Linked DNA regions of Homo sapiens: all the other regions are linked to region 3. Evidence: fine-mapped expression QTL. A gene starts in region 3. Each other region holds a variant in brackets. All regions are shown on one strand. Distances are between the middles of the regions.

The links. PIP is the estimated chance that this variant, and not a neighbour inherited with it, causes the effect. A credible set is the group of variants that fine-mapping cannot tell apart.
Region 1: its variant is the best candidate, but not a certain one, in a credible set for the expression of ZNF140 in whole blood (INTERVAL, PIP 0.55).
Region 2: its variant is the best candidate, but not a certain one, in a credible set for the expression of ZNF140 in whole blood (INTERVAL, PIP 0.80).

Annotation. Positions count from the first base shown.
Region 1 is chr12:133,026,253-133,030,493 of GRCh38, reverse strand. ZNF26 (zinc finger protein 26) reads right to left here. Exons shown (of 4, transcript NM_019591.4): 4 at 3,392-4,241. Among named protein-coding and RNA genes, the nearest start is that of ZNF84-DT, 8.8 kb to the left of the region's middle. The variant T/AT (reference allele first, on the strand shown) is at 1,941.
Region 2 is chr12:132,977,015-132,981,255 of GRCh38, reverse strand. All of the region lies in intron 1 of LOC124903064 (a long non-coding RNA gene), which reads right to left. Among named protein-coding and RNA genes, the nearest start is that of ZNF26, 7.2 kb to the left of the region's middle. RefSeq lists a silencer at 4,085-4,241. The variant T/A (reference allele first, on the strand shown) is at 2,520.
Region 3 is chr12:133,079,002-133,083,242 of GRCh38, reverse strand. ZNF140 (zinc finger protein 140) reads right to left here and starts at 2,320. Exons shown (of 5, transcript NM_003440.4): 1 at 2,171-2,320; 2 at 1,914-1,970; 3 at 14-140. The coding sequence starts at 1,922. RefSeq lists enhancers at 2,332-2,531, 2,602-3,291.

The DNA of each region.
Region 1 (4,241 bases), 53 kb after region 3:
AGAGGGCAGCTGAAGGAAACAGCTCACTCAAGATGCCAACCAGGCCTCTGTTCATGCCATCATGGATAAGATCTATTTTTGAGGGTCTAATTAAGTTAAGAACTATAATTGTATGTATGTTGGGATTCCTTTTCCTTCTTGTCAAGGTACAGATGGAGCAGAGCTATCTTGTATGTCAGTAGCCCCACTCATGCATTCTTTGTACTCAGACCTGCGTGACTTGAAAGCATGAAGTAGCTAGAATGGTCATCACCCCACTTCCCTCAAGATTGAGGAGTGCACAAAAAGGGGGGTACCTGTAACTGTGGGACCAGCTCAAACAAATTAACCATTTCTTAAGTTGTTGCAGGTACACACACAGCCAAAATTGCCTTGGCACATGCAATGCAAAAAGCTTTAATTTCTAATTGTTATCATCACCAGCCTGACAGGCCTGCATTGGCATCATCTGGGTCTAGCTGGAAATGCCATAAAATCTTGACCCACCCCAATCACAGAGACAGATCTGAGCATTGCCTCTTGTCTCCTTGCCAGTTGACTTGGTATAAAGCTTTTTTTTTTTCTTCCTCAAAAGAGGGAACCATAATGTTGGCTTCTGTGCATGTTGTAAAGTAAGCCTATTGCTCAGTAACAAATATATCTTTCCATTTTTTCTTTTTTCTTTTTTTTTTTGAGATGGAGTCTCGCTCTGTCACCCACGCTGGAGTACAGTGGCGCAATCTCGGCTCACTGCAAGCTCTGCCTCCCGGGTTCACGCCATTCTCCTGCCTCAGCCTCCCAAGTAGCTGGGACTATAGGCGCCCGCCACCACTGCCAGCTAATTTTTTGTATTTTTAGTAGAGATGGGGTTTCACCATGTTAGCCAGGATGGTCTCGATCTCATGACCTCGTGATCCACCTGCTTCAGCCTCCCAATGTTAGCCAGGATGGTCTCGATCTCATGACCTCGTGATCTACCTGCTTCGGCCTCCCAAAGTGCTGGGATTACAGGCGTGAGCCACCATGCCCGGCCCATTTTTTAGTTTTTCTTTTACAAACTTTAAAACATTATTGTATTCATAATTTTTCAGTTTATATGTGGTTTTTGGAAGATTTATTCCCAGACAGTTCTCATTTTAAATTTAACATTTTATAAGATATATTTCTAAGTAGCTTATTTCTATTGCTATAATGAATATGAGGGTTTTTTATAGTATTTTTTGTTATTGTTGTTGGTTGTTTTTGAGATGGAGTCTTACTCTGTCACCCAGGCTGCAGTGCAATGGCATGATCTTGGCTCAATGCAACCTCCACCTCCAGGATTCAAGTGATTCTTCCATCTCAACCTCCCAAGCAGCTGGGATTACAGGCGCTCGCCACCAAGCCTAGCTAATTTTTTTGGTACTTTTGTAGAGATGGGGTCTCACCATGTTGGCCAGGCTTGTCTTGAACTCCTGACCTCAGGTGATCCACCCACCTCGGCCTCCCAAAATGCTGGAATTACAGGTGTGAGCCGCCACACCCTGCCTATAGTATGTTTTCTTATTGGAAGTTGGTGGAATCATGGACTGAATGTGCCGCTTAAGTCATATATTGAAGCCCTAACCCCCAGTGTTGCTGTACTGGGAAGTGGAATGTTTAATAAAATAATTAAGGCTAAATAAGGTCATGAGAAGCCAGGAGTGTTGGCTCACGCCTGTAATCCCAGCACTTTGGGAGGCCGAGGCAGGCGGATCACCTGAGGTCAGGAGTTCGAGACCAGCCTGGCCAACATGGTGAAACCCCGTCTCTACTAAAAATACAAAAATTAGCCAGGCGTGGTGGTGGATGCCTGTAATCCCAGCTACTCAGGAGGCTGCGGCAGAAGAATTGCTTGAACCCGGGAGGCAGAGGTTGCAGTGAGCCAACTGCGCCATTGCACTCCAGCCTGGGCGACAAGAGCGAAACTCTTAAAAAAAAAA[T/AT]GTTATGGGATCTTTGAGGTGTCACTTTTCTTGTCAGGAACCTCTGTGGCCAGTGGCACCTTTGCTCGAGTTTTGCTCAGGCTCGCTGGGCTCATTCTGCCCCCTTGGCCTAGCATGCTGTTCTCAGCTCACACTACCAGCCCAGATCCCACACCTCTAAGGGAGACTGAGAGTCAGGTGTGGAGCAGCAAGGGGTGTGTGAGCAAGCATGGGATTCAGCCACTGCACCGACACACTGGCTGCTGCTGTGGGGCAGGCAGCTCCAGGTGCCAGCAGGGGTGCCAGCTCTCTGTGAGGCTGCGGCTGGACTAGGGACACCACAAGCAGCTTCCATGGCTGGCACTGGAGAATGCGGTGTTGCCCAAAGGCTTGGAGACCCCAAACACCACAGGTCCCCAAAGAGGAAGTCACAGCCCTGGCTCAAAGATCTCCCAGGTCTGGGCTCCTCGAAGGGCTGAAGCTCTTCTCTTTTTCTCTTCACCCACAATGTGGCAAGCAAGGGGCATGTTTCAGCTGTGTGTGTTACAGCTCTTTCAGCCTTGCCATTCAGCGGGTCCTGAGTTCTTGTCCTGCGACCAGAAAGAAGTAGGTAGGCAGACAAGTGAGGGTGAGCAAGACGAAGGGGAGCTTTATTGAGTGATAGAATAGCTCAGAGGAGACCGCAGGGGGCAGCTCCTATCTGCAGCTAGCGTGTCCCCCAGTGTTTAGCTCCTTGCACAGAGGGTACCTCCTCTCTGCAGCTGGTTGTCCTGACGAGGGCTCAGCTCTCAGCAGAGAGGAGGCCCTAGAGTGACTGGCTCCTCTCTGCAGGCAGATGGTCCCCCATCTGATCACCTCTGGCTGAGCCTGTGGTTTGTACGGGTCTGAGAGAGGAGGAAGTGCTTGCCGATTGGTTCATGGGCGGCCATGGACGGCCAGGAAAAGGAACCATAGGTTCCCACTCCGGGTGGGAAGCTGGAAGAGTGGCTCAGTCCAAGTACCAAGGCCTCAAAACCAGGGAAGCCTGTGGCATAACTCCCAGTTGGAGGCTGAAAGCCCAGGAACCTTAGGTTCTGATGTTGAAGGGCAGAAGAAGATGATGTCTCAGCTCCAGGAGAGAGAGAATTCACCTCTCGTCAGCCTTTTTCTTCTGTCTGGGCCCTCAACAGATTGGACAGTGCCCACTCACATTGGGTGAGGGTGAATCTTCCTTACCTGATTCAAATGCCAGTCTCGTCTGGAAAAACCCCCACAGGCATAGCCAGAAATAATACTTCGCCAGCTATCTGGGTATCCTTTAATCCAGTCAAGCTGACACCTAACATTAATCATCACAAGATCTTGCTTGCAAATAACCACAAACATTCCTCTTTCTTTCCAGCCCATATACCTCTTAATCTTCATTCCTTGTCTTACCACATTGGTTAGGACTCCAGCTCAACGCCGGGAGAAATAATGAGAGAGCAGTGATCTCAGCGGTTCCTCATTTTAATTATACTGTTCGTAAGGTTCTGCTTGAAGTATGTTTGCTGAGGGGTTTATAATCGTAAAAAGGTGTTGCATTTTATTCTGAGTTTCTTAAGAATTTTATAACAAAGAATTGTTCCAATTTATTGAATATTTTTCTTAACCTATATAGGTATTTATGTTTCATATCACTCTATTTCTACATTATTTGGTTAAAATGATAAATATATAAACTTTAATATTGAATTATCTTTGACATATTTATTTATAAAGTTGAACTAGGCCAGATGCAATGGCTCATGCCTGTAATCCCAGCACTTTGGGAGGCCAAGGCGGGCAGATCACCTGAGGTCAGGAGTTCGAGACCAGCCTAGTCAACATGGTGAAACCCCACCTCTACTAAAAATACAAACATTATCCAGGCGTGGTGGCAGGTGCCCGTAATCTCAGCTACTTGGGAGGCTGAGGCATGATAATCACTTGAACCTTGGAGGCGGAGGTTGCCATGAGCTGAAATTATGCCACTGCACTCCAGCCTGGGTGACAGAACGAGACTCTGTATCAAAAAAAAAAAAAAAAAAAAAAAAAGTTGAACTATATGAAGTTGTCCTTTTTATGGGTTGGTCCAGTCACTCTTCTACATAACAGAACACCTCAAAATTTAGTGACTTATTATTTTAACTTGATTACCTAAAAAAAGAGACTTATTGGCCAGGCGCAGTGGCTTACGCCTGTAATCCCAGCACTTTGGGAGGCCGAGGCAGGTGGATCATGAGGTCAGGAGTTCAAGACCAGCCTGCCCAAGATGGTGAAACCCCATCTCTACTAAAAATACAAAAATTAGCCAAGTATGGT
Region 2 (4,241 bases), 100 kb after region 3:
GGAGAACAGTTTGACCATTACTTAAAAAGTTAACCATAAACTTACCGCATGACTCTGCAATGCTACTTCTAGATAGCTAAGAGAAAATGAAAACTTATGTCTGTATAAAGTCGTTTATGATAATGTTTATAGCAATATTATTATTATTATTATTATTATTATTATTATTTTGAGACGGAGTCTCACTCTGGCCCAGGCTGGAGTGCAGTGGCACGATCTCGGCTCACTGCAAGCTCCGCCTCCCGGGTTCACGCCATTCTCCTGCCTCAGCCTCCTGAGTAGCTGGGACTACAGGTGCCCGCCACCATGCCTAGCTAATTTTTTGTATTTTTAGTAGAGACGGGGTTTCACCGTGTTAGCCAGGATGGTCTCGATCTCCTGATCTCGTGATCCGCCCACCTCGGCCTCCCAAAGTGCTGGGATTACAGGCGTGAGCCACCGCACCCGACCAGCAATATTATTTATAATAGCCAGAAACTGGAAACAACCCAAAATGTCTATCAACTGCTGACTGGATAAAGAAAAGTGAAAGCAACTCAAATGTCCATCAAATGATGCCTGGATAAACAAACGTGGTATAGCCATAACGATGGAATACTGTTCAGCAATTAGAAGAGGGGGGAAGTGCTGATACATGCGATGTGAATAAACCTCAAAAACATGATGCTGATGTCAAGAAGCTAGACAGAAAAGTCATCGCATGTATGATTTTGTGGATATAAAATGTCTAGAAAATGCAAATTTGTAGAGTGAAAAATCACATCAGTAGTTGCCTAAGGATAGGAGTAGGAACAGGGGTTAAATGTAAATGGGCATAAAGAACTTTGGTAATGAAGATGTTCTAAGGCTGCATTGTGGTCATGGTAGTAAAACTCTATGAATTTACTAGTATCACTGAATTGAATACTTACAATCGACACATTTTGTGGCATGTGAATTGTATTTCAATAAAACTTAATTAAGGCCACTGAGTTTGACTATTGGAAATGAGAGAGATAAAAGCAGAAATAAATGAGGTCGAAAGCAGAACAACAGCAGAACTAATAAATAAAAACATTTGTTTTTGAAGAACGTTAACAAAATAGAAAACTCGGTGTTCTAATCCAGCAAAAAGAGAAAAAGTACAAATATACAAAATAAGACATACAAAGAGGAAATAACTACTGAAACAAAAGATAGATGTTTTTTAAATCATAAAAGACGTTTTTGCCCAACTCTAGGCAAAAACATTTTGAAGACCTAGATGAAATGATTAAATTCTTAGGAAAATTGAATTTTCCAAGATTTACCTCAGAAGACTCAACAGCCTACTTTTCATCAAATAAACTTGTGAAGAACCACCCCACAAAAAAGTAACAGATTTTGATGGTTTCATAGGAAAATGCTGCCAAACTTCAAAGACCAGATAATCCCAATGCTCATAAATTATTCCAGAATAAATAATACTTCTGGCCGGGCGTGATGGCTCACACCTGTAATCCCAGTACTTTCAGAGGCCGAGGCAGACGGATCACGACGTCAGGAGATCAAGACCATCCTGGCTAACATGGTGAAACCCCGTCTCTACTAAAAATACAAAAATTAGCCGGGCGTGGTGGTGGGCACCTGTAATCCCAGCTACTCAGGAGGCTGAGGCAGGAGAATCACTTGAACCCAGGAGTCGGAAGTTGCAGTGAGCCGAGATCGCGCCACTGCACTCCAGCCTGGCAACAGAATGAGACTCCGTTTCAAAAAAGAACAAACAAACAAACAAAAAAACTTCCGAATTTCTGGAGCAATTATAACAATACTATGTTAACCTAAAAAAGTATCACAGAAAATGAAAACAAAAATTGATTTCACTTGTCAACAGTGATGCAAATATCTTAAGTCATAAACAGAGTGAGGTATTGAAGTCTTCAATTATTACTCTAGAATATTGCTCTCATGAATTCTGTCAGTTTTTGCTTTATATATTTTTATGGTCTGTTATTAGATATATAAGTATTATAATGTCCTATGTTGAATATTTTATTAATCTACAAGGTTATTCTTTGTCTTGTGATCTGTTTTGGTTTAAAGGCTATTTTGTCTGATGCAACCATCACTGCTTTCTTTGGGATATTTACATGGAATATCTTTTTCAATCCTTTCACTTTCTACTATTTGTGTTTTTGGATGTAAAGTCAGTCTCTTATAACAGCATATAGTGGAATTATGTATTTTTATTCAATCTTCAAATGTAAGTCTTTTGATTGAAAAGTTTATCATTTACATGTAAATTAACTACTAATGAGGAAGTTTTTTTTTTGAGATGGAGTTTCGCTCTGTCACCCAGGCTGGAGTGCAGTGGCGCAATCTCAGCTCACTGCAACCTCCGCCTCCCGGGTTCAAGTGATTCTACTGCCTCAGCCTCCCGAGTAGCTGGGACTACAGATGCGTGCCACCACGCCCAGCTAATGTTTGCATTTTTAACAGAGACGAGGGTTTCACCATATTGGTCAGGCTGGTCTCGAACTCCTGACCTCAGGTGATCCACC[T/A]GTCTCAGCCTCCCAAAATGCTGGGATTACAGGTGTGAGCCACCGTGCCTGGCCGGAAGATATTATTTCTGTCATTTTGCTTTGTTTTTGAAGTGGCTTATAAGCGTTTTTATCTCTAATTTCCTGCATTGCTGTCTTCTTTTGTGTTTATTTATCTATTTTTTTTGAGAGGGAGTTTTGCTCTTGTTGCTCAAGCTGGAATGCAATGGCACAATCTCGACTCACTGCAACCTCTGCCTCCCGGGTTCAAGCAACTCTCCTGCCTCAGCCTCCTGAGTAGCTGGGATTACAGGCGCACACCACCATGCCCGGCTAATTTTTTGTATTGTTAGTAGAAACAGGGTTTCACCATGTTAGCCAGGCTGGTCTCAAACTCCTGACCTCAGGTGATCCACCCACCTTGGTCTCCCAAAGTGCTGGGATTACAGGGGTGAGCCACTGCGCCCGACCTAGTTGATTTTTTATAGTGGAATGTTTAAATTCCTTTCTGATGTTCTTTTGTGTCTGTTCTATAGCTATTTTTTGTGGTTGCCATGAGGAGTACATTTAACATCGGAAACGATAACGCTCTAATTTGAATTTTTACCAGTTTAACTTTAATAACAGGTGAGAACTCTGCTCCTTTAAAGCTCTGCTCCCACCCCTTTGATTTGCTGATGTCACAAAATTACATCCTTATACATTGCATGCCCCAAAACATACATTAATCCTTCTTTTAAATGCATTAATCTCTTAAATTATGTTTAAAAAAAAAGAAAATGTGGAGTTATAAACCAGAGTTACAATAATGCTATCGTTTGGTCTAATGATTATTTTATGGTCTACTCAAATTTTTTTTTCTTTTGAGACAGTGTCTCACTCTGTCACCCAGGCTGGAGTGCAGTAGCACAAACATGGCTCACCGCAGCCTCAAACTCCTGGGTTCTCCCAAGTCAGCCTCCCAAGTAGCTGAGACTATAGGCATGTGCCACCATGCCTGTAGGGTCTAGCCCTACAGGGTCTGTGGGATTTTCTCCCCATGTGCGGAGACGAGAGATCATAGAAATAAAGACACAAGACAAAGAGATAGAAGAAAAGACAGCAGGGCCCGGGGGGCCACTACCGCCAAGACGCGGAGACCGGTAGTGGCCCCGAATGCCTGGCTGTGCTGTTATTTATTGGATACAAGACAAGGGGGCAGGGTAAGGAGCGTGAGCCATCTCCAATGATAGCTAAGGTCATGTGGGTCACGTGTCCACTGGACAGGGCACCTTTCCCTGTTTGGCAGCCGAGGCGGAGAAAGAGACAGCTTACGCCATTACTTCTGCATTTCAAAGACTTTTAGTACTTTCACTAATTCTGCTACTGCTATCTAGAAGGCAGATCCAGGTGTACAGGGTGGAACATGAAAGTGGACCAGGAGCGTGACCGCAGAAGCACAGCATCACAGGGAGACGGTCAGGCCTCCGGATGACTGCGGGCGGGCTTGACTGATGTCAGGACCTCCACAAGAGGTGGTGGAGCAGAGTCTTCTCTACCTCCCCCGGAGAAAGGGAGATTCCCTTTCCCGGTCTGCTAAGTAACCGGTGCCTTTTCTAAGCACTGACGCTACCGCTAGACCATGGTCCGCTTGGCAACGGGCGTCTTCCCAGGCGCTGGCTTCACCGCTAGACCCAGGAGCCCTCTGGTGGCCCTGTCCGGGCATAACAGGAGGCTCGCACTTGTCTTCTGGTCACTTCTCAC
Region 3 (4,241 bases):
GAAGAATACTTACCCAGTGAGACCAGATGGCCATAGTTCTCCAACATTACACATCTGTACAAATCTCTTTGAGCAGGCTGAAGCCATTTCCACTCCTCCTGGGAGAAGTCTATGGCCACATCTCTGAATGTCACTGACCCCTGAAATGACGGACAGATATTTGCATGACCAGCACGCATGCCCCCAAACTCCCTCATCAAGGAATAAAATGAGTCTCACTGTGGAGGTTAGGCAATGTGTCTAAGTAGTAACAGTGAGAGTTTTCAGAATTCTGAGTAATTATATAATGAAGAGCCTAGCTCTTGTGTTTTGTTGTATAACTGGAGAAAAGGAGAAAAACATAAATTATCTGTCCTGAGATAATTTACAATTTTATTCAAAATAAAGGATTATACACATGAACAATATGGATTTTTGGCATTGGTTGTAAAAATTCTTAAGATTTTACAGTATTCCTTTATGTTAATAAACAATGTATATTTTCCTTAATACCAGCCTATTTTAATATAATTCAGCCAGAATTTCTTCAGGGTAATAATTCGCTACAGCAGATAACAGCACCACCCTTCAAATGGGGCATACAGTCTCAAGTTTGTCACAGTTATCCCTAATCCTAAAGAAATACCTGTGAAACTTAGTGGTAATTTTAGCAATGTCACAGAACAAGGAGGATAAGCAATAAAGAATCTTGATTCCGCAAGAAGAGAATGTAATACCTCCCAGGACAGAACCTAAAGCACTTTCCCTCAGAGTTAGGGGGAATAATATATAAGCCCTTGCTTTGCAGCCTGGTTTTGCACCACTTGAGTGATCCACATTGATCTATAAGGCATGAATGGGAATTTAAAATGTCTCAAACTAGTAGCAGTCCCAGATGGATGGCAGTTATAATTTACAGTTTTGAAGTTTAATAAAAAAGTGATTAAAGACTGTTGACTAATAAAGCAGCTGTTTCCTACACAGCAAGATCTGCAGCAGAGGTGGAAATTGGATTCCCCAGCAAAACTCAGAGAACCTCTGAATTTGGAGAGAAGTATGACAAAAAGTAGGATAAAGAAGTGGAACTGAAATGAGGGACTCATTTTGAATAGTTGACCCTGTTATCCCCACTGCTGTGAAGCACAATTACCAGCCAAGCCCTTAGGCCAAATCAAAATAAAAATGTGTTCCTTATGTCATGTCTGAAAAATGAGCTCTGAGGATTCGGAGATTTTGTTTTGGTCACTTCTGCATCCTCAAGACTTAGAATGAGTTGCACATTAGAATCACTTGGAAGGACTGTTAGACTGCTGGGCCAAATTCTCAGTTTCTGATTCAGAAGGTCTGGGGTAGGACTCAAGAATATTCATTTCTAATACGTTCTCAGATGATGCTGATACTGCTGGTCCAAGGATCACACTGTGGGAACCACTGAAAGTAGAGGTTCAGTAAAAACATATTGAATAAATGAATAAAGGGGCGCTGGAGTAACGTAAAGCACTCCTCATTCTAACACTGTGGGAAAGAGGAGGCGATGTAACAGCTGGCACCCTACCCTCTCACCCTAAAACATGCCAGCCAGGTCAGAAACCCCGCCCACATCTGGATAGCTTCCTGTCACTCTCTTCATGTATACTTAAGTATAAGCACCTGAAAAGGAGGAACAAGGGACAGGGTCCTGGGGTTCTGCCAGGCAGGTGGTTGTAGGAGAAAGAAAGCCACGTCCCAAGTCCTGAAAAACACGGCTGCACTTCACAAAGAAAAGCGGAAACAGGCCAAGTGGGTTGGCTCACTTGAGGCCAAGAGTTTGAGGTTACAGGATGCTATGATCGCTCCACTGCCTGGGCGACAGGAGGAGACCCTGTCTCTCTCTTAAAAAAAAAATAAAAATTTATATATATATATATATATATATTTATCAATCATTAGCTTACCTGAGACATAGCTCACAGAAGGGAAGGAGGAGATCAGAAAAGTGTAAAATGGCAGACCTGGCAGAGAGAGAAAGGAGCCCTGAGCGAACAGGCCAGCTAGGCCGCGCCCAAGTCACTAGATTCCCGCACTGGGGATTCCCGTGGCCCCCGCTCCGCGCCTCCCACGTAGAGAGCAGGGCGCCCTGAGAGATCGCGCTTGGACCACTGGCGCCGGCTTTCTCTTCCTGCCACGGCGCGCCTCCCCAGAACCCCCTCACCTAACAGTGGCCACAGAAGGATGCGTTTCCGTGGTGCTTTCCGCCAGGTGGGCGTAGCGTTCCAGGGCTCCGGACCGAGTCACCGCCCGGGGCCATCCGGCGCAGACCGGGAGGGCTCCTTTCGTTGCCTACAGCCAACACAGGCCAGACGCTCGGCGCCGCCCCCCAGGGCCCCTCCGCGGGCGTCGCAGGAATTGCGTCTTCAGAAGCCTCGCCGACGTCACCCCAACCAGGCCGCCGGCCTCAAGAAACTACAATTCCCAGAAACCAATGCGGCCCTGCGCGCAAGGGCTTTTCGTTCCTACTGGAACTCCCAGAGCGCCTCGCTGCCGTGCCCAGAACGCCAGGAGACAAAGAACGAGGGCCTGCGACAACTACAATTCCCAGAGCCATCGCGGCCCGGTGCGCCAGAGCATAGGGGCTATCCTCCCACGCCCAGAGCCGAGAAACAAAGAACCCGGGTCCTAGGCAACTACATTTCCCAGAAATAACCGCGGCCCCCCGCGGAAGAGTACACAGACCTTTGTGTTCCTATAACTGCCAGAGTGTCTCGCGGCCAAGCGCACAACTAGCGGAGAAACGAAGAACGTGGAACTCAGGCCACCACACTTCCCAGAAACAACCGCGACCCCGCGCGAGAGAGCATATGGCTTTCCCCGCCCCACTGCAACTCCCAGGGTGCTTTGAGGCCAAGCGCACATCATCGAAAGACAAAGAACACGAGCTTCAGGCAACTACACTTCCCAGAACCTCTAGCGACCGTGCGCAAAAGAGCGGAGGACGTTCTTCCCCTACTACGACTCCCAGAGTGCATCGTGGCCACGCCCAAAGCCGGAAGACAACGCAGAGCTCTGGCGACTACATTCCCCCAAACTCCTGCGCCGCACGCCAGAGGGTATAGGGTTTTCCTCCCCTACTACGACTCCCACAGTGCTTCGCTGGCGTGCACACACGGCCCAGAGACAAGGAACTGGAGACTCAGGTGACTACACTTCCCAGAACACACCGCGGCCCAGCAAGAGCCCAAGACCGCCTCTATTAAACAACTAGGATTCTTAACAACGACTGTGGAGTCAGTACTTCAGTCTAAGACCTTTTGCTACTGGAAAGGGGTCCGGATCTCAGACTCTAAGAGAGGGTTCTTGGATCTTGCACAAGAAAGAATTTGAGGCGAATCCATAAGGTGAAAGCAAGTTTATTAGGAAAGTAAAGGAATAAAGAATGGCTAATCCATAGGCAGGGCAGCCCCGAGGGCTGCTGGTTGCGCATTTTTGTGGTTATTTCTTGATGATATGCTAAACAAGGGGTGGATTATTCATGCATCCTCTTTTTAGACCATATAGGGTAACTTCCTGACGTTGCCATAGCCACTGGTGGGCAGTGAGGACAATCAGGTCGTTCTCATCGCTATCTCGGTTTTAGTCGGCTTCTTTACTGCAACCTGTTTTATCAGCAAGGTCTTTATGACCTGTATCTTGTGCCAGCCTCATGTCTCATCCTGTGACTACGAATGCCTTAACCTCCAGGGAATGCTGCCCAGCAGGTCTCAGCCTTATTTTAACCAGCCCCTACTCAAGATAGAGTTGCCCTGGTTCAACCGCCTCTGACAGTGGAAGACGTAGCAATGAGGACAGCCAGAAGTCACTCTCATTGCCATCTTGGTTTTGGTGGGTTTTAGCCGGCTTCTTTACTGTAAACTTTTATCAGCAAGGTCTTTATGACCTGTGTCTCATGCTGACCTGCTGTCTCATACTGTGAGTTAGAATGCCTAACGGTCTTGGAACGCAGCCCAGTATGCCTCAGCCTTATTTTACCCAGTTCTTATTTAAGATGGAGTTGCCGGGTGCTGTGGCTCATGCCTGTAATCCCAGCACTTTGGGAGGCTAAGGCGGGCAGATCACCTGAGGTCAGGAGTTTGCAATCAGCCTGGCCAACAGGCCAGAGTGTAACCTCGTCTCTACTAAAAATACAAAAATTACCTGGGCATGGTGGTGGGTGCCTGTATTCCCAGCTACTTGGGAAGCTGAGGCAGGAGAATCACTTGAACCTGGGAGGTGGAGCTTGCAGTGAG